Linked DNA regions of Homo sapiens: regions 2, 3 and 4 are each linked to region 1. A link means that fine-mapping ties the variant in region 1 to the plasma level of a protein whose gene starts in the linked region. Region 1 holds a variant in brackets. A gene starts in each other region. All regions are shown on their reverse strands. Region 1 overlaps GPLD1 (glycosylphosphatidylinositol specific phospholipase D1). Region 2 holds the start of ENPP7 (ectonucleotide pyrophosphatase/phosphodiesterase 7). Region 3 holds the start of RTN4R (reticulon 4 receptor). Region 4 holds the start of TREH (trehalase).

Evidence for each region. PIP is the posterior inclusion probability: the model's chance that the variant is causal. Protein levels are from antibody-based Olink assays in UK Biobank. Linkage for the fine-mapping came from a reference panel and not from the study's own genotypes, which makes the PIPs less certain.
Region 2: it holds the start of ENPP7, and the variant in region 1 is fine-mapped to the plasma level of the ENPP7 protein (UK Biobank, PIP above 0.99).
Region 3: RTN4R starts here. The variant in region 1 is fine-mapped to the plasma level of the RTN4R protein (UK Biobank, PIP 0.98).
Region 4: TREH starts here. The variant in region 1 is fine-mapped to the plasma level of the TREH protein (UK Biobank, PIP 0.96).

The regions. Positions count from the first base shown.
Region 1 is chr6:24,426,824-24,431,967 of GRCh38, reverse strand. It overlaps GPLD1 (glycosylphosphatidylinositol specific phospholipase D1), which reads left to right. Exons shown (of 25, transcript NM_001503.4): 25 at 2,850-5,144. The coding sequence ends at 2,936. Among named protein-coding and RNA genes, the nearest start is that of MRS2, 26 kb to the right of the region's middle. The variant AG/G (reference allele first, on the strand shown) is at 2,855.
Region 2 is chr17:79,728,176-79,733,319 of GRCh38, reverse strand. It overlaps ENPP7 (ectonucleotide pyrophosphatase/phosphodiesterase 7), which reads right to left and starts at 2,377. Exons shown (of 6, transcript NM_178543.5): 1 at 1,928-2,377. The coding sequence starts at 2,180. RefSeq lists enhancers at 239-358, 409-458, 3,578-4,537, 4,419-4,713, 4,620-4,739 and 1 more.
Region 3 is chr22:20,266,287-20,271,430 of GRCh38, reverse strand. RTN4R (reticulon 4 receptor) reads left to right here and starts at 3,113. Exons shown (of 2, transcript NM_023004.6): 1 at 3,113-3,360. The coding sequence starts at 3,339. RefSeq lists silencers at 2,850-2,909, 2,960-3,119, 3,210-3,369 and an enhancer at 3,581-4,269.
Region 4 is chr11:118,677,235-118,682,378 of GRCh38, reverse strand. TREH (trehalase) reads left to right here and starts at 2,729. Exons shown (of 15, transcript NM_007180.3): 1 at 2,729-2,840. The coding sequence starts at 2,752. RefSeq lists enhancers at 2,178-2,837, 2,838-3,499.

The sequences.
Region 1 (5,144 bases):
TTCTTGTACGTATGTGTAGCTTTTTATAATTGAGCAAGTATCCCCACAGGTGAGAATCTTAAAAGTAGGATTGCTAGATCTAAAAGTGTACACAGTTTAAATTTCGATATGGCAGATTAAAAAGTTTAACCTTGGCTGGGTGCAGTGGGTCACACCTGTAATCCCAGCACTTTGAGAAGCCGAGGTTGGTGGATCGCCTGAGGTCAGGAGTTCAAGACCAGCCTGGTCAACATGGTGAAACCCCGGCTCTACTAAAAATACAAAAAATAGCCCGGCGTGGTGGTGCATGCCTATAGTCTCAGCTATTCGGGAGACTGAGGCAGGAGAATCGCTTGAACCTGGGAGGTGGAGGTTGCCGTGAGCCTAGATGGTGCCACTGTACTCCAGCCTGGGTGATGGAGCAAGACTCTGTCTCAAAAAAAAAAAAAAAAAGTTTAACCTTAAAATATACCTGTAAACCACTGATTGCATTCATCCACTGTATAGGCTATAAGAAATAAAAACAGAGAGGGCAGAGTCCCTGTTCTTGAAAATAAGATTCATATACATGGAAAGTCAAATAAAATGCAAATTAGTATAGGATTAAATGCTAATGAGTAGTCTGAAGAATAAGTCTTTACAGTGGGTTGAAGGGCTGCAGAAGCCTTCATAGATTTATATATATAACCAGGTCTGTAAGACTTGTTAAGTGCTGTGGACCAGGTTCCTGTGGACCAGGGTGGAAGGTGGGAGGAGGAAGAGGATTAGGAAAAATTGTGGTGAAACTGCCCTCTAGTGGCCAATAATTTAAGTGACCCATTTACAGGCAGGTCTAAAAATGTAGGATTAACCACATAACAAAAATATGGTTATTAACTTTATGGGAAGATTCTCGGAAGGTCTGATCACAGGGATCCTTTATATGACAAGCTTGGCTTATATCTAAAATTTTATTTGTTTCAAAAATTAGGCATTGTCAAGAACCCATGTATTATATAAAACTATACATATATCAACTATAGCTTACATCAGTTGAGAGTAGTGGTATATATAATCTAAAAGTAACTTATATTTTATTCCTTTTTGTAAAACACTGCAAATGTACCTTCCTAATTATTGTTTACCTGGGTTAGTGTTAAAATTACTTCACTTTTCCAGCACATACCTGAGCTTGGGGGCATTGAACGCTCTGGGTGTAAAGATAAATCAGATGTTATGTTTCAAAAATGGGCATTGACAATCAGAGGATGATCAGAGTGGCCTTTTTCTGAGATTTGGGTACAAGTTATGTTCTGAAGATTCCTTCCTTTCTGTGGCATAAGAGCATTCAGTAATGAAATTAGTCGTAACAAACTAGAATTAGGATCCGGCGTCTACTTAAGTAAGTAGTGCTCTCACTGTCTCTGTATTTCAGAAACTTCTCATGGGGCTGCCTTCCATCAGCTCAGGAGCCTCAGCAGAGCAGTAACTTAGTGTATAGTGAGCAGTGTTGTATCAAGCACCTGTGAGATAGACAAAGAAACCTGAGACATGGTCCCAGCCCCAGGTGCTTGTAGTCTAGGTGGGAAAATACAGCAGGCCCACAAGACCATCCAGTTTGGTGTATGATGACCAAGAGCCAAACGAGGTCAGACAGCAACTGCAGCAGAAGTCTCTGCTGGTGGAGTCAGGGAAGGGCCTGCAGAGATCATGGGCCCGGAGCTGCATCTGGAAAGATGACTAGACTCTGACAAAACAGAGTGAAGCCGAAGGCCAGGCAAATTTAGTAAATGAGTAATTCCATAAATTGGGAAAGAGAGGGAGAATAAAGTACCATTTGATGCTGTTTTCTTAAGTGTAGATTTTCCCTATTAATTGACACTGGGTATTAAGGGATAAGATAAGCACAGGGCTAAGCATAGTGTCTGACCCATGATACAACCTCCACAAATTTTAGCTATTATTATTATTTCTAGATTTCATCAGTAGTTTTCAAAATTAAATAAGAAACTGTCATATCCTGCTCTGACCAAAATACTGTCAGCCAGTTTGATCACCCGTACCTCATGTGCCAGCTTTGGTTCAGAATAACTTTTGTCAGTTTCCACAAATCAAATCCGACCTCGGAGTATGAAGATTTGCCACCACTGAAAATATTTAAAGACCAGGCATGGTGGCTCACATCTGTAATTTCAGCACTTTGGGAAGCCGAGGCGGGTGGATCACTTGAGGTCGGGAGTTCGAGACCAGCCTGGCCAACATGGTGAGAGCTCGTCTCTACTAAAAATACAAAAATTAGCCAGATGTGGTGGCACATGCCTGTAATCTCCGCTACTCGGGAGGCTGAGACATGAGAATCACTTGAAACTAGGAAGCAGAAGTTGCAGTGAGCTGAGATCACATCACTGCACTCCAGCCTGGGTGACAGGGCAAGACTCTGTTTCAAAAAAGAAGAAAATGTTTTAAAAACTTGCAGCAGGTTTTGAAGGCAATTCTGAAAGATGGGTCCTAAAATGTTTTAAGCAGCAGGGTAGGTGGGAGGTACGCTAAACACATTGACAAAGCCAGCTTCTAGGGGAAGTCCTTACTATTCAAGATATGTTTTCCACATTGTACCAGAACTAAGCATGCACTGCCCTACTTCTCCTTTATGATTTATGTGCCAGAATAGGGATTGGGGTGAGCATCCTTAGCTGCGGTTTTCAGAACTTATAGATGTGAGAAAGCGGTCTGTAAACAAAGGGAAAGTGGCATTTGAGTTCAAGCCAGGGGATCTGGCCAGTGTCTTATTCATCTTTATATTTCTAGAGCATAGCATGATGCCTGGACTACCATAGGAACTCAATAGATGTTATGAATGAGCCATGAATTCTGTCTTGTGTCCCTTACAGAACCA[AG/G]TCGTCATTGCTGCTGGAAGGAGTTCTTTGGGAGCCCGACTCTCCGGGGCACTTCACGTCTATAGCCTTGGCTCAGATTGAAGATTTCACTGCATTTCCCCACTCTGCCCACCTCTCTCATGCTGAATCACATCCATGGTGAGCATTTTGATGGACAAAGTGGCACATCCAGTGGAGCGGTGGTAGATCCTGATAGACATGGGGCTCCTGGGAGTAGAGAGACACACTAACAGCCACACCCTCTGGAAATCTGATACAGTAAATATATGACTGCACCAGAAATATGTGAAATAGCAGACATTCTGCTTACTCATGTCTCCTTCCACAGTTTACTTCCTCGCTCCCTTTGCATCTAAACCTTTCTTCTTTCCCAACTTATTGCCTGTAGTCAGACCTGCTGTACAACCTATTTCCTCTTCCTCTTGAATGTCTTTCCAATGGCTGGAAAGGTCCCTCTGTGGTTATCTGTTAGAACAGTCTCTGTACACAATTCCTCCTAAAAACATCCTTTTTTAAAAAAAGAATTGTTCAGCCATAAAGAAAGAACAAGATCATGCCCTTTGCAGGGACATGGATGGAGCTGGAGGCCATTATCCTTCATAAACTATTGCAGGAACAGAAAACCAAACACTCCATATTCTCACTTGTAAGTGGGAGCTAAATGAGAACACGTGGACACATAGAGGGAAACAACACACACTGGGGCCTATGAGAGGGCGGAAGGTGGGAGGAGGGAGAGATCAGGAAAAATAACTAATGGATACTTAGGGTGATGAAATAATCTGTGTAACAAACCCCCATGACACACCTTTATGTATGTAACAAACCAGCACTTCCTGCGCATGTACCCCTGAACTTAAAAGTTAAAAAAAAGTTGAACTTAAAAATAACAGATTGGCCCATGCCAATCAAAGTATAATAGAAAGCATAGTATACAGAAAAAAAAAAAAAAAAGAAACTGAGGGAGGAAAAATAGTACAGAGTAAAGCATGGGGGTGAGGGATAACCTCACATTCCAAATCACTTGTGACTTAGTCCTTTTTAACTTTTATTTTAGGTTCAGTGGTACATGTGAAGGTTTTATCTTTTCTGTTCCTCCCACCTTCCCCACTCAAGTAGACCCCAGTGTGTGTTGTTTTGTGTTCATAAGTTCTTTTAACTTAGCACCCACTTGTGAGAACATGCTATACTTGGTATTTGGTTTTCTGTTCCTGGTCGTGTGTTAGTTTGCTAAGGATGATAGTCCTTTTTTTTTTTTTTTTTTTTTGAGACGGAGTCTTGCTCTGTTGCCCAGGCTGGAGTGCAGTGATGTGATCTCAGCTCACTGCAACCTCCGCCTCCCAGGTTCAAGTGATTCTCCTGTCTCAGCCTCCCAGGCAGCTGGGACTACAGGTGCACAATACTACGCCCGGCTAATTTTTGTATTTTTAGTAGAGACAGGGTTTCACCATGTTGGCCAGGCTGGTCTCGAACTCCTGATCTCAGGTGATCCACCCACCTTGACCTCCCAAAGTGCTGGGATTACATGTGTGAGCCACAGGACCTGGCCGATAATCCTTTCTTAATGAGGATTAATACCTTTTCAATGTTTATATAGTGAAGGACAAATATAAAAACCAAGACTATCACCCTTCTGTGCCCTCCAATACTTTTGTAGAGTTGGCTGTTCTAACACCTAAAGAGCCTAGCGACACTGCTAGTTTTAAGCCATCTCATGAGGGACCTTTGTCGCATTAGGTTACAACTTGTGCCAAAAGAACTAGAGGGAAAAGATGTGGCCTGAGCCACACGCTACTGTAAGGGCCGGAGAGGAAAGCAGGCCTTGGCCTCGCTTGTTCCTGGGCTGTTTTTCGTAGGATGGATTTCATTTGTCAGTCCTGCAGCGTGGCACACTTAAGGGAATGGAATGTATCATAGGGTTTCAGTTTCAGTAAACATTAGCGGGCATTATCTGTAAACAGTAACTAGTTTATTTTGTGTTAAATTGGGAAGAACCTCTTTCTTCTGCCACGGGTGAGATGATACTAAAAGCAGGAGAAAATAACAAATGAGAAGAGCCCTTCTCTTCTCAGCTTCTCTCAAGAGTAGAGACTGGTGAAAAGGGGACAGGAAGAGGAATCCAGCTGAAGAGTGGAAAGTTAACAAGAACATCAAGAGGTACATCCCTAGAGAGCATCTCTGGGTCACTCCCAGGATGACCTCATTTTTCTGGAAGAGGTACATGTGCTAGCTGCATAGTAACCTATGGCACAGCAAAAGCACAAGGAAGCGCCATTTGGTTTTGTTTAG
Region 2 (5,144 bases), not on the chromosome of region 1:
GGTCATGTCTGAGACAAATAGACACGTGTTCTTTGACCTGTTTTAGCAATCGCACTTCCACTTTCAGTTTGTCCCACAGCTGGACGGGCACACAGGCACGAATGCGTGTGCAGGGATCCTGGTGGCAGCCTTGTTTGCTTTAGCAAAAGATTGCGGGTGACCTCCACGGCCGTCAGGAAGGAACTCATTAAATAAATGATGGCCCAGCCATCAGACGAGATCCCAGGCAGGAATTTCAGTGAACTACGTGGAGCTCCAGGAGATTTTTTGAATTTATTTTTGTACAGGAAACACGTGCACATGGTACTAAGTCCAAAAGGTGCAAAAGGAGAGATGATGTGGAGAAGGTCCCTCCCGTCCTCATCTGCGATACAGAGAGCAAAAGAGGCGCTGCGCAGACGGGAGACCCGCACACCTCCGTTTGCGGTTAGAAGGGGCAGAAAGGCTGGTGTGGGGATGAGCTGCCTGTGTTGGGGTGGATGGTGTCCCACCACATTCATGCTCACTTGGAACCTTAGAACGTGGCCTTATTTAGAAATAGGGTCTTTGCAGATGTGATTAGCTAGGGTAAGGGGATGTATACCAGAGAAGTGTGGACCCGAAATTCAGCGACTGGTGTACTAGTGAGAAGAGGAAAGTTTGAATACAGACACACACACACAGGGGAAAGGCCCTGGGGAGACGTGGGGAGAGGTCGGAGTGATGCTGCCGCCAGCCCAGGAATGCCAAGGATTGCCGAGGCCCCAGGAGCCAGAAGAGGTGAGGAGGGAGCCTCTGCTGGAACCTTCCGGGTGGGTGCAGCCCTGCAATGCCCTGGGTTTGGCCTTCTGGCCTCCAGAAGCATGCGGATCCGTTTCTGTGGGTTTAAGCCAGTCTGCAGATCTTTGTTGCAGGCGCCCTGGGACACCCACGCAGGGTCTTTGGAGGATGACGCAGGTTTGGGAGGTGGCTGAGCCCCTAGGGAGGGCCAATTGCTTTTCAATTCTCTAACACCTTTTTTGTGGTACTTGGCTTTTTATTATTTTATTATTGTTTGTTTTTTTGACACAGGGTCTTGCTCTGTCACCCAGGCTGGAGTGCAGTGGTGTGATTGCAGCTCACTGCAGCCTCTACCTCCTGGACTCCAGCAATCCTCCTGCCTTGGCCTCATATATATATATATGTGTGTGTATATATATATATATATACATATATATATGTATATATATATGTATATATATATTATATGCAGTCTTGCTTTGTCACCCAGGCTGGAGTGCAGTGGTGCGATCTCAGCTCACTGCAACTTCCACCTCCTGGGTTCATGCAATTCTCCTGTCTCAGCCTCCCAAGTAGCTGGGATTACAAGCATGCACCATCATGCCTGGCTAATGTTTGTATTTTTAGTAGAGATGGGGTTTCGCCATGTTGGCCAGGCAGGTCTCGAACTCCTGACCTCCAGTGATCCGCCCGCCTCAGCCTCTCAAAGTGCTGGGATTACAGGCGTGGGCCACTGAGCCTGGCCCCATATTTGGCTTTTTAAAAACCTATGTCTGTATTGTCTACAGCCTGGGCAGATCTGTCAGGGAGGTGTTGGGTGGAAAATGGAAAGGATGGAAGGGAGAGGGAGAGGCTGACACAGCCAGCTGGAGGGGCGGGCAGGGGAGGGGAGCCATGGGAGCCAGCGGGGAGCCCGCCACACTCCCCTCCTCCTGAAGCCTTCTGGGGTTGCTGCCCTGGCTGTGGCCACGGGTTTAAGGACCCCCCTGGTCATTTTTCTTTGTCCCGGATCTGTTGCTACCAACGGTGAGGATTCCTAATGGTCCCCTTGGCTCTGTCCTGTGCCTGGAGCAAGGACCTCTCCCCTTTATCCTGCACGACACGGCTCTGTGCCATCTGGTTTCTCAGGCCCTCCCACCCCCAGGCCCCGTCACAGGGCAGTACTCACCGGTGACCAGGGTGAAGTGGCAGGGGCTGGTCATGGTGACAAAGGCGGGGGTCATGTAGCGTGCCTTCACCCCGTCTCGGGCCATGGCGTCCAGGTTGGGGGTGTCCACGTCCTGGTCGTAGTTCCAGCGGAAGCCGTCGAAGGACACCAGGAGCAGCTTGTTCTGGGAGCCCTGACTTTGTACCGGTGCTCCGGCCCCGGGAGCCAGGAGCGTGGCCAGAGCCACAGTGAGGAGGACGGCCGGGCCTCTCATGCTGGGCCTTCCAGATGGACAGGCACACAGGGTGCACAGGGCTGGCTCCTGCCGAGGAGGACAAAGTCCCAGGGTCACCCGGGCTGATCTCATCCCGTGCGCCTTTGGAATGTGGCTGTGCACATCCCCGGGTCGAACCTCGGGAGTGGGCTCCCCAGCCGTGTCAGTGCCACCCCTGGTCCCAGCCTCACGTGCGTGGGGTGGCATCAACTTGAGCATCTGCCTTTATTGCCAGCCGCGCCCTTGGTGCTCCAGGCTCCTCCCCTCCCTCCCCAGAGTGGGGACAGTGACCCAGGGCTCAGAGCACAGCAGGAGCCCATTCCACTGGGAAAGTCGTGCCCTCTCCCTCTCCCATAGCAACAGGTGGTCCCTCTGTCCCAGCTCACCCTGACCCCAGGGGACCCAGGTGAGGCTGGGGTGGGACCCCCTCTCCAGGCCTTTAGTGGTGCATGGGCCTCAGGCCTGCCTGGGTGAGGGCCTGTGGGGTGGGCTTCCCATGGTCAGGGCCAGGACCAAGCCTGGGTCACAGCATGGCCTTGTCCGGGGGGAACCCCAGGCTGGGTGCCTGTTCTCCTCCTGGTCCTGTTAAGGGGCTCCTTGAGCGTGGTGAGCAGACCGGGAACCGGATGGCTCCAGACCAGCGTCCTGTGGGCCTTCCTTCTTGGGATGCTTCCTTCTTGGGATGCTTCCTTCTTGGGAATTTCAGAGGGTGCCTGGGGCTCGGACGTTCTTGCTTGATGACAACAAGGGGTCAGAAGAGGGGGACTCCCTTGTTACCATAGGCACATGAAGGGTGGGAGAGGAACCCCTGGATTCAGTGTGCGGTTCTCCCTCCCTCTCCCCCATCTCTCCTTCCCCTTCTCTTATTTTCTCTCTCTTTCTCTGTCTCTCTCCCTCTTTCCTTCCCTGTATGTCTCTGTCTCAGTTCCTATTAAGCACGTTCTGTGTGCCAGGCATGGTTCTAGGTTCTGGGGACACAGAAGTGAATGAGACAGACAATGTTCCTCGTGGCCTCCATTCGAGTTGGGGACACAGAAGATAAAATGAACAAACAAGAAAAAAAGAGTTTCCCAAAAGAAGGGAAGGCAGGAAGACGTGATGGAGAGGCTGGCGGGGTGGGTGGGCGGCACGCAGTGGTGGCTGGTGGGGTTTCGCTGAGAGGATGGTGGAGGCCAGTGACTCTGGGGGACCATGAGCTAGGGGAGCGGGCATGGGGCAGGTGGCAGGGGTGGCAGGGCCAGTCCCGTAGGGCAGGTGGCGGTGATTCTCATGCCAGGCAGTGGAAGCCAGGCGGGGGTTTTAAGCAAGAGAGTGACATGAACTGATCTAATGCTAAAATATACTCTCCATTTGTGGGTGAAGGATAGACCAGAACGAGGGCAGAATGGACACTGGGTGCTCCCTGGAGAGGTGACTGCCTGTGTCTGAGCAAGAGCTATTGGTGGCCCGGACCAGGGTGGTGGCTGTGGGATGGGGCTGGGTTTGAGGCGGATCCTGGAGGTTTTGCTGGGAGGTGGTGCGCTGGATTGCATGGTGGGAGGTGGTGCACTGGATTGCGCGGTGGGAAGACGGAAGGGCATGGTTGGAGGTATTGTCACAATTTCAATCTGGAGCCACACACCTGCCGACAGTGGCCCCGGCCTTCCTTAAGACCTTTGGCTGGCTGCAGCAAGCAGACGCCGTCTCGAAGCGATGGCCGTGGCACTCAGATGACACCGCAGACGCCGTCCACAGCCTCCCCAGGCCAGCCAGCCTTTCCTAACCCAGGTGGGCAGGGACCACTGGTACGGATCCCCGGCTGCCCCTGCCTGGCCGACTGGAACACACTCTCAAGGAGGACTCCGTGCCAGTGACCCCTCTTCTTCATGCTTCTGTGCACCAAAAGCTGAAAACCAGGATGGAGCGACTGCCCGGTGCCTGCAACCACCGCGTGGGGTGCCTGCTCTGCAGGGCTGGGGCTCAGGGCACCCAGAGGTTTGGCTCCTCCCTGGGGAGCACAGACCTTGGGGAGGGTAAGGATCCCTGTGAGTCAGGGACACAGGTTACGATGCACGCACAGGGGGAATGCAGGCGGCCTCGGGAGAGGAGATCGGGCTTTGCTGGCACCAGCGTTGTGGGAGGCCCACAGGATGCATGGAGCCAGGAGAGAGGGCGGGAAGGCTTCAGGCAGAGGGACCAGGCATGGAGGAAGGGAGGCACCGGGGCTCCCGAGAGGGTCGACCAGGAGGAGCCTGTAGGCCGTGGCGGAATCTGGATTTTCCGCTGTGGCAGAGCTGGTTAGTTGTCCCCTAATATCTGTTCTCCCCTCTTTCCATGATAAGATGGCTGCTAGAAGAAAGACTACATTTCCCAGCATTCCTTGCAGCAAAGCAGGGCCACGTGACCACATTTTGACCAATGGGGCAAAAGGAGAATGTCTTGTAGCAGTCCCAGCCTCTTGCCGGAAGCTAGCTTTGCTTCTCTTCTTTTTTGATTTTTTCCTCCATCTGATGCCTCTGGCTGGCAAGCCACCCTAAGCCGCCTGATGAGGGGCTCCCCGGGGATGGCCGGGGTGCACAGAAGGGGCCTGGTCCCCAGCGTCCTGTGTAGCTCAGCTCCAGGCTGCATCCTCCCGGGGAGAATTCAACACACTCTGCCTCGTTGCAATTTCCATTATTTGGGTTTCCTGTCACTCTCAGCGGGACCTAGTTCAAGCTGATAATAGAATTCCAGGCCTGGGGGGCATTGCTAGGTTTAAGCAGGAGCTGGCTGTGGGGTGGGGCTCGAGAGGGCCGCCAGGGAGGCAGGGCCTGAGTGAGGAGCCGAGGCAGTGGTCCAGGGGCCTGGCCAGGCCTCGGCTGGAGTGCATTTGGGGTGTGCTTGAGGCCGGCGCAGATCTTGGTGGCTCGCAGGTCTGGGGTCCGTGGTTCTGCAGGTTCTCCTGTCGGCCCCTGGGGTTGTGCGAATTCCTGGTCCTGTTCACCC
Region 3 (5,144 bases), not on the chromosome of region 1:
CAAGCTGGCTTCTATGGGCAGTCCTGGAGTTTTGAGTGAAAACCCTGCATGATCCTCTCAGGGGACAGGCGAGGTGAACAAAGGAGGGATGGTGACCAGCTGACCAGGACCTGAGGCATTAGCGTCTGCCTCGTCCACATGCTGTGCAAGCTCAGCGAGGCCAAGGGACTGGGCTGAGGTCACACAGCTGGGCAGGGCCCTCATGACCGGCATGCTGGTCGTGGAGGCTGAGCCCCACATTTTGGGTGTGGGTGTGGGTGGGAGGTGAGACAGCCCCTGGCCTCACTGTAGAGGGGTGGTGGGCTGGGGAAGCTGGCAAAGAATGTGCCCCACATGGTGGGTGTGAGGTGGGGAACGATTCGGGCAGATGCCCGTGTGGCCCTGCTGACCCAGTCCAGGCAGGGTGTGACAGGTCTGTGTGGCCCTGAGGGCACAGCTGTCTGCAGTCTCCAGCTCACTCCTGATCCCCAGGGCCACGTGTCCAGAAAGCCTGGGAGCTTGCATCAGCTGGGCACAGATGGCCTGTCCTCCCAGCACCCCTGATGGGGCTTCCTAGGAACTGACTGGTGTAGACTCCGGGCAGCAGACGGCCAGGCTCTGCCCACAGGGTCCCTGGCTCCTCCCACAAGGTGACCCGATAGAACTGGTTGTGCCCCTTGACCAGGGGCTCCAGCCCTTGTCAAGCCCTCCCTGCTAGCCCCTCACCAGCCGTCAGCTGCTCCCCTTCTTGCCCGTTGGGCCCTGGGGGGTGATGGCTCCGTGGTCGCCTGCCCAAAGAGTACACCACTCCCCATGCTACCCCTCACCCGGCTACACCCTGAAAAATGTGGCTTACCAAACCCTCCCACATGCGCAGCCTGAGAAGTGGGCTGTGCCTTGCTGGTAGCAGACCCACCGGCTGCCTAGCCCTGCTCAACTCTGCCTCTGCACCCCCATAACTCCCTATCAGCGCTGGCCGACGCCTAACCATCCCAGCTAGCACCCAGGAGTGGGCCCAGCTTCCAGTGGGGAGGGTGCTGGCCAACGTGCTGACCGAGGTGGCGGACACAGGAAACCAGCCCATCCCCCAGCGCTCCCTCTGCAGGCCTCAGCCCTGCTCCCATGCAGAGACCTGTGGGGAGGTGGAGGCCCAGGTCCCAGCGCAGAGCAACCGGGAACAGCCAGGTTGGTGGCTGGAGAGGGTGCTGGTGCCAGAAGCCTCCAGGGCCACCCCTGCTCCCCATTTCACCCCATGCCCATCCCATGCCCCAGAATGGTCACTTCGGCTGCGGCAGGAGGGGTGGGAGGGGCTTTAAACCTATGAGATAGGGTGTGGGGTCACAATCTTCAGCTATAGTGGGCTGCTCTGGGTCACTGGTAATTGAAGAGACGCCTGCGGAGTAAGCAAGCAAGTGTCCTCTCAAGGCCTTTCTGCAAGCACAGAGCAGCCCGAGACTGGAGCCTGGTCCACCCCAGCGCTGTCCTCAGACTGATGGTCAGTGCCACGTGACTCATCTAGGGTCTGATACATCCCTGTGGAGAGAGCTCAGTTCCTAGCCTGGGGGCTGCTGTGTGCAGGGACCCTGGAGAAGAATGCTTGTCTGGGGGTCAGGCCTCAGCCTCCCACTGGCTCTGTGAGCTTCGCCTGAGGTTCCCTATCTGTGCAATGGGTGATGACGTCTTGGTGTGGCTCTGGGAGGACCTGTTGAGCCACCTCAGGGGCTGAGCTGGTGGCACTCGGCAGCCAGCACCCTCTGGGGAGGTGGCAGTGTGTGCACAGCCCACCCCTTCAGGAGGCCAGGGGACAGAGTGGCTGGGGGTGTCTGGGCCCCACCTCACCTTCTGTGTGGCTGGGAATGGCATGCACTCCACAATGCCCTCATAAGCCTAGGCTGGGACAAGGGTGATAGGGATAAAGCAGGCCAAAGTGATGAGGGCCACAGAGCGGCAGCCAGAGGCATGTGGGCAGTGCAGCCTCCACACCAGGCAGAGGGCCCACCCAGCATGGCTCCACCCTGCGAAGCTGCCTGCCACTGGGATCAGATGGGAGCACCAGGGCTCTGGGAGGTCCTCACTTCCTCTGCACAAGGCAGGCAGGTCACCGGCCCTGCGCCCTGCTCATCTCCCTCAGGGCCACCTCCATGGCCAGGGGCAGGCAGAGGGCACAGGGGTGCCCAGTCACCAGGTCTCTCTGCTTCATATCAGTGGACCTGGGCTCTGAGGGGGGCCATCAAGGCATCAGGCTGGCCCACTCCGTCCTTGAGTCAGGGTCCTACAGACTGACACCAGGTGGGCCTGCAAGACCCTCATCTGCATGGTCCTCTCATGCAGGGTGGGCCTGGGGAGGACCCAGCCCGGCTGAGCTGACTCCCAGCACTTCTCCAGGTGCAGGGGCAGCCTGGCAGTTGTCTGAAGACCCCGGGATGCACTTAGGAGCTCATCGGTGAGGCCCGGTAGGTGCCCCGAGCAGAAGATTGAGAAGGGACACCTGCACCCCTGTGTGGTGTGTGCAGGGGCGTCACTGGATTCTCTGGCCCCATGCCTCACACCGCCCGTGGGGGGCTGGCTTGGTAGAGTGGGGGGATACTAAGCAGGTGACCTCGGAGAGCGTCTTCTGGGTTTGGAGCCCCCATTCCGCAGAAGGGAAGAGGTGGGGGACCCCTGCAGGGTTACGGGTAACATCAGGCCTAGGTCCCTTCTCTAGGATGGTGCAGAGAGGGCCACAAAGGCCCAGGAGGGCCCCCAGAACTCTCTTAAGCCCTGAGCCTGTTTCTTACTGAAAAATGGGGGCGATCGTGCTGCAGCAAGGGGCTTCTGTGCAGGGGGCGGGGGATTCATGGGTTTCGTGAGGCCAGGAAGGGAGTGGGTCAGGCAGAGGCCATTCCTAGGCCTCGGGACAAAGCCCTTGCCCGCTTGGGGACCGGGCCAGCCTAGGCCGCCACACCCTCGGGCCCGCGTCCCCGGCCGGCTCCGGCCCGGGCCGCCATCCCCTCCGCCGCCTGCAGGGGCCGCCGCCTCTTCAGGAATGCGCCGCCTTTGTCTGGGACCGCGCGGCGCCGGTGCACCGGGCGGGCTGAGCGCCTCCTGCGGCCCGGCCTGCGCGCCCCGGCCCGCCGCGCCGCCCACGCCCCAACCCCCGCGCCGCCGCCGCCCTCGCCCTGTGCGCCCTGCGCGCCCTGCGCACCCGCGGCCCGAGCCCAGCCAGAGCCGGGCGGAGCGGAGCGCGCCGAGCCTCGTCCCGCGGCCGGGCCGGGGCCGGGCCGTAGCGGCGGCGCCTGGATGCGGACCCGGCCGCGGGGAGACGGGCGCCCGCCCCGAAACGACTTTCAGTCCCCGACGCGCCCCGCCCAACCCCTACGATGAAGAGGGCGTCCGCTGGAGGTGAGTGTCCGCGCTGCACCCGAGCCCGGCCGGCGGCGGGGCGCGGAGGGGGGCGGCTCGCCCCCTCCCCGGAGCCGCAGGGCCCGTCCCGGGCTGCCGAGGCGAGGGAAGCGTAGCCGGGCGGCAGGGAAAGCCACCGCAGTGCCGCGCCAGGCTGGGGCCGCTGGCGCCCCGGCCCCGGGAGGGCGGAGCCGGAGGCGGCAGGAAAAGTTGCCGCTTCCCGGGAAAGTTGACGGCTTCGGCAGGGCCGAGGGTGGCGGTCCGAGGGTCCCCGATGCTGGGCCAAGTCGAGGGCGGGGGCCGTGGGCTGGAAGGGCGGGGCCCGGCCTCGGAGCGCCCCGGCCACCAAGGGGTTAACGAGCGGGTTTTTGCAGAAACGTGGGTACCGAGGGTGGGTGGGGGTGTCGGGCCGCCTCCACCCCAGCCTCACGGTCTGGGCTCAGAACCTCCCGTTTCTCCGAGGTCAGTCCACAGTGGGATGAATGGGGGCGTTGGCGGCAGTAGAGGGCGTGGGGGACAGGGTTGTCCCAGCGCTGCCTCCAGGGCGGGCGGTGAGAGGAGGCAGCAACGCCCGCCATCTGCAGCCCGAGGGACATTGAGAGGCTTGGCTGGGGGAATCAGGGGCGGTGGGGCAATCAGCAACCCCTCCCTAGCAGCCCTCGTGGGACTCCCCCGCCCCACCGGCTGTGAGGTCCCGCGGTGCGGGCAAGGGAGGGTGGGCTCCATGTGAGTTGGGCATGCCCCGCCTGGAGGGTGCTCCCCAGGTGCCCACCCAGGCTGCCCTGCTGATGTCCATGGTGCCGCAGGCTGCACACACGTTTCCTTGCACGTGCACTTGTCTACACGGACTGCACACTTGCACACCTCTGGTGCACATGCAAGCCAACGCCGCCCCAGTGTGCACATGCACAAACACTGGGTGCACACACGGACTCTGAGGGTGCATATCTGTGTCCTCGCCCCCGCCTGCACACCCACGGCCACACATGCATGCACGCGGCATGCCTGCTGTGGTCTCCACGGGTGGCACATGCTGGGGCCCCTTTCGCAATAACCACTCCCGCACCCACATGCTCGTCTGTTGAGTGGGGAGGCCAGGCCCACAGACAGGGGCAAGACATCCTGGGCCCCACCTCTGCCTGCCTGCCTCCGTGTCCTGGGGGTCCCCGCCTCGGGCTTGTGTGCGTGTGTGTAACTTGGTATGCATCTGCACGTGTGTCTGTGCGCGTGATCATGTGTGCCTGCGGGCACATAGGCATGTCTCTTTGCCTCCAGGGTGTGGGTGCCCCTTGTGTGCCTAGACAGGCTGTGGCCTAATCTGGAGCAGAGGCCCTGGAATGTGTGTTGGGGGCTCGTTGAATACCGCAAAGCCCAGGGTGTGAGGGGCAGGGTCTCCCAGCCACTCCCTACCCACCAGGGCTGAGGCAGATAGATGATGGTGGGCTGGAACCTGTCTGGGCAGGGAAGACCCATTTCAGGCCATGAGGTCAACACTGTGACCAACAGGCCAGACCCTGGGCACCCTTGGTGGCCGCTGCAGCTTGGCTGACTGGAGCACGTGACCCAGCGTGACTGCAGAGGCCCCGCCTCCAGTGCCTCAGTTTCTCCATGGTGAGGACCTTCTTGGTGAGGGGTTCTGTGGTGGGCTCCCCTACCTCCGGTGTTGTGTAGGGTGCTGAGCAGATGGATGCCATGCTGCATGATGGGCAAGGGTGGCCCACTAGCACTGTGGCAAGGGCCCTGGGCTGGGGCTTGGATTGGCAGGCCACACCTCCTGCTCCCCT
Region 4 (5,144 bases), not on the chromosome of region 1:
TTTCTGCCTAATACGGTCCAGGACCAGATGGCTTCATTGGTAAATTCTACCAAACATTTAAAGAATTAACAATCCTTCTCAAACACTTCCACAAATAGAAGAGGGGCATATTTCCTAACTCATGCTATGAGGCTAACATTACCCTGATATTAAAACCAGATAAAGACATCACAAGAGGGCTGGGCATGGTGGCTCACACTTGGGGAGAAACACTTTGGGAGGCCAAGGCGGGAGGATCACTTGAGGCCAGGAGTTCAAGACCAGCCTGGGCGACACAGTCAGATGTAGTCTCTACAAAAAAATTTAAAAATTACCCAGGCGTGGTGGCATGCACCTGTAGTCCTGGCTACTCAGAAGGTTGAGGCCAGATGACCACTTGAGCCCCAGGAAGTCGAGGTTGTGGTGAGCTGTGTTCATGCCACTGTATTCCAGCCTGCTGGGTGATGGAGCAAGACTATGTGTCCAAAAAAAAAAAAAAACAAAACAAAACAAGGAAAGAAAATTACAGTCAAATATGCTCTATACATATTGATGCAAAATTCCTCAAAAAAATACTCGCAAGCCAAAACCAACAGTTTATTAAAAGGATTAGACATCATGACCAAGTGAGATTTATCCAAAGAATGCAAGGGTGGTTGCACAGCATTGTGAATGTAATAAAAGGAAATTGAATTGTACACTTAAAAATTGTTGACCAGGCATGGTGGCTCACACCTGTAATCCCAATACATTGGGAGGATGAGGCAGGAGGATTGCTTGAGCTCAGGAGTTCCACACCAGCCTGGACAACATAGGGAGACCCAATCTCTAAAAAAAAAAAAATTATTTTTAATTTAAAAATTAGTTGGGCGTGGTGGCATGTGCCTGTGGTCCCAGCTGCTCAGGAGGCTGAGGTGGGAGAATCCCTTAAACCTGAGAGATCAAGGCTGCAGTGAGCTGTGATGGAGCCACTGCATGCCAGCCTGGGCAACAGAGCGAGACCCTGTCTCAAAAAACAAAGCAAACAAAAAAAACAATGCCAGCTGCCCACATTACTGGGTGGAGCTATCTGAACCTTTACTAGTTCAGAGTGGTGCCTGATTCATGAGTCATTTCTTTGCTTGAATAAATGGTTAAATTTAATTTGTCTAAGGTTTTTCTTTTTAATAGCAGTAAACACTGCTCAGGTGCCACAACTGACATCCTTAACTGCAAACCTAAGTCCTTCAGGAGAGGTCATGCCTATCATTAAACTCCATGTGCCTTGCCCACCCCCTGTCCCCTGTCCCTTCAGCTCACCTTCCATATGTTGAGGGGATGAGCCTCCTAAAGTAACCGAATCTGCTTTTTTTTTTTTTTTTTTTTTTTTGAGACAGAGACTTACTCTGTCGCCCAGGCTGGAGTGCAGTGGCATGATCTCGGCTCACTACAACCTCTGTCTCCCGAGTTCAAGCGATTCTCCCACCTCAGCCTCCTGAGGAGCTGGGATTACAGGTACCCGCCATCATGCCCAGCTAATTTTTGTATTTTTGTAGAGACGGGGTTTCACCATGTTGGCCAGGCTGGTCTTGAACTCCTGACCTCAGGTGATCCACCCGCCTCGGCCTCCCAAAGTGGTGGGATTACAGGCATGAGCCACTGCACCCAGCCTGAATCTGCTTCTTAAGCTCACAAACTTCTCTGCTGGTTCCACTTTGGGGAATTACAAGGAATTACATTCCTTGGCTTGGCAAAGACCATTTCCAGACTGGTGCCAACATGTTCCTCCAGTCTATCTCAAAACCCTTCCCTGCATGAACACCAAGTTCTCTGCAGCTAGGCTGAGGGGTTTGCTCTTCTCTTCACATGCTCTGCATACATTGTAGTGGTCTCCAGCCCATTTCCCTTGGCAAACTCCTATGCGGTCATCAAGACTCATTAGGACTGGCGCAGTGGCTCACGCCTGTAATCCCAGCACTTTGGGAGGCCAAGGCGAGCAGATCATGAGGTCAAGAGATTGAGACCATCCTGGCCAACACAGTGAAACCCCGTCTCTACTAAAAATACAAAAATTAGCTGGGCGTGGTGGCGGGCACCTGTAGTCCCAGCTATTCAGGATGCTGAGGCAGGAGAATTGCTTGAACCCGGGAGGCGGAGGTGGCAGTGAGCTGAGATCACGCCACTGCACTCCAGCCTAGCGACAGAGTGAGACTCAGTCTCAAAAAAAAAAAAAAAAAGACTCATTACAAATGACACACTATTGTGGGTCTCCCTTAGTCCTCCCCAGACAGAATGGTTCTACTGTCCTGTGCTTCCGCTGTATCTCTTGCAGATAACAGTGAGAGGCCCTGAATTTCACACCACACCAGGGACAGGATCTTGAGCCATTCCATTTGAAATGTTAAGGGAAATGGTAACTCTCTGAGGTTGGTGGTCTTGGGGCCACCCAAGGAACCTGGCATCCAGGTTACAGGTGTGTGGCCTCGACTGTGTCCCTGGCCTTTGGGTGCCCACTCCCCACCCCCACCACCATGCTCTGAGGGAAGGGCCTGAGCCATTGGCACCAGCTGAGACTGTGAAATAGAAGAGGCAAAGTAGAAGCAAGGGAGGTGGCCACTGTGCCCTGAGAGCAGGAGGGGCAAGCGGGCCACACACAGACCAAGCACACGTCCCCTCAGGTGGCCACGCCTCAAAGGCTGGACTTTGGCCGACTTGGACAGGCAGGTGAGCCAGGCTGTGCCCAGCAAGCCGAAGGTGCCTGGGCTTGCTCATTCAGTCACAGTCACAGCCACCATGCCAGGGAGGACCTGGGAGCTGTGCCTGCTACTGCTGCTGGGGCTGGGACTGGGGTCCCAGGAGGCCCTACCCCCACCCTGTGAGAGGTAGGGGTGTGGGGAAGGCAGCAGGGGAGGATGGCAATAAGAGGGAGGCTGGGATGAGATCTCAAGCTCTGGGGTCGGTACTTCAGAGGGAAAGGAAGAGATTATAAAGGAAGGAAAGAGTAGGGAAGAGAAGAAAATGAGAATTCCTATGTAGCAGGCTCTGTGCTGGGCACTGCACCTGCAGTCCGTTTTTTTTGTTGTTGTTGTTAGAGTCTTGCTCGGTCGTCCAGATGGAGTACAGTGGCACCATCTCCACTCACTGCAGCCTAGACCTCCCGGGTTCGAGAGATTCTCGTGCCTCAGCCTCCTGAGTAGCTGGAATCACAGGCATGCACCACCACGCCCAGCCTGTCATTGATTTTTACCAAAATTTTCCACCGTTGGAAGGGACATTAGGCTTGGCGACTGTGCTGGGAATACAAGCGTGAGCCACCGCCCCCTGTCGGGACCTGCAGTCCTGATACCAGACGCAGCTGCCAGAGCCTGGCCTGAGGTCCAAGAGCCTGCTGGCCAGAGCCCGCCCTCCCTTCCTCTCCTCCTCCAAGCTGCCCCTTGAACTGTGCAGGCCTCTTCTCAGGATTGTTCTAGCAAACTTTCTGCTCCAGCTTCCTAGTCTGGGTGTGAGAGGCAGCCTAAGGGCCTGAAGACAGCACTTGGGCTTGAGCCCTGACCCTCATATTCTCTCTGTGACCCAGGGCAGGTCAAGGCTCTTTCCTGAGCCTGAGTTTCCATCACCAGGGACAGAGATGAGTGACCCTGTCCTGTCTCCTGGACTCAGGCGATGTCCACCCTTCGTTCCACATGGATTTATGGAGCTGTGGCCACATCAGCCACTTTACCAGCTCCTGCAAGAACAATAATAATAGAAGAAAAACAGCTGGGCACGGTGGCTCATGCCTGTAATCCCAGCACTTTGGGAGGCCAAGGTGGGAGCTATCATCTGAGGTCAGGAGTTCGAGACCAGCCTGGCCAACATGGTGAAACCCCATCTCTATGAAAAATACAAAATTAGCCGGGCATGGTGGCGCACGCCTGTAATCCCAGCTACTCGGGAGGCTGAGGCAGGAGAGTCGCTTGAACTTGGGATGTGGAGGTTGCAGTGAGCCAAGATCATGCCATTGCACTCCAGTCGGGGCAACAAGAGCAAAACTCTATCTCAAATAATAATAATAATAATAATAGAAGCAAAACAGTAACAGAAGCACAGTTTGAAGTAGAGAGAAGTTAGGGCCCGCTGGTGTGGGTGAGCAGAGGGTGTGTTAGAGAGGATGGGGAGGGACGGTGTCTCTGAGGAGGTGATGTGTAAGCAGAATTGTGGCAGGAACCATTGCTGAGCTGATCTGGGAGAGGACAGTCCAGGCATGGAAAGGGCCATGCAGAGGCCCTGACGCACTGTTCAGGGATTGGGACGAAGGCCTGTGTGATTGGGGCAGAGTGGGAACAGGTCCGGGGAGAGCGGGGCTCCAGGCAACAAGGTTTGGGCTTGGGTTCCAGTGGTTAGACTAGAGACAGAGACAAGGGGTTCAATAGAGGGTGTGTGTTACAGGGAGAGTTGACAGTGCTTGCCCATGACAATTGTGGAATATAAAGGGGAAAAGTGTACCTGGGATAATTAATAGGTTTTGTCCTGAGCAATTGTAATGAGGACTTCAGAGAGGCTGGGTGGTCCAGTGCTTTGTCAAGCATTAGGCTGTTTGCCAAATGTAGGGGAAGATGACTTTACTGGTGTTCCCTAAGACCAACCTCAGGCCAGTGATTCACTAACACTTCCAAATGGTTATACCATGATTATGGTTTCATTTTTTTTCTTTTTTTGAGACAGAGTCTCGCTCTGTCGCCAGGTTGGAGTGCAGTGGTGCAATCTCGGCTCGCTGCAACCTCCACCTTCTGGGTTCAAGCGATTCTCCTGCCTCAGCCTCCCCAGTAGCTGGGACTACAGGCACCTGCCACCACGCCCAGCTAATTTTTGTATTTTTAGTAGAGACAGAGGTGTTGCCATGTTGGCAAGAATGGTCTCAATCTCTTGTCCTTGTGATCCGCCTGCCTCAGCCTCCCAAAGTGCTGGGATTACAGGCATGAACCACCGTGCCCAGCCTTGATTATGGTTTCTTACAGTGAAAAGATACATGTTAAAGCCATCAAAGGTGAAATATTCTAGGGCCAAGTCCAGGAGAAAATAATCTCAATCTTCCAGTTTTTCCTCTCCCAGTGGATTTATATGGACAGGACTTGATTTTTCCAGCAATAACATGTGACAGCACGCATGAAGTATTGCCAATCACAAAAGCTCACCTGAGTCTTGGT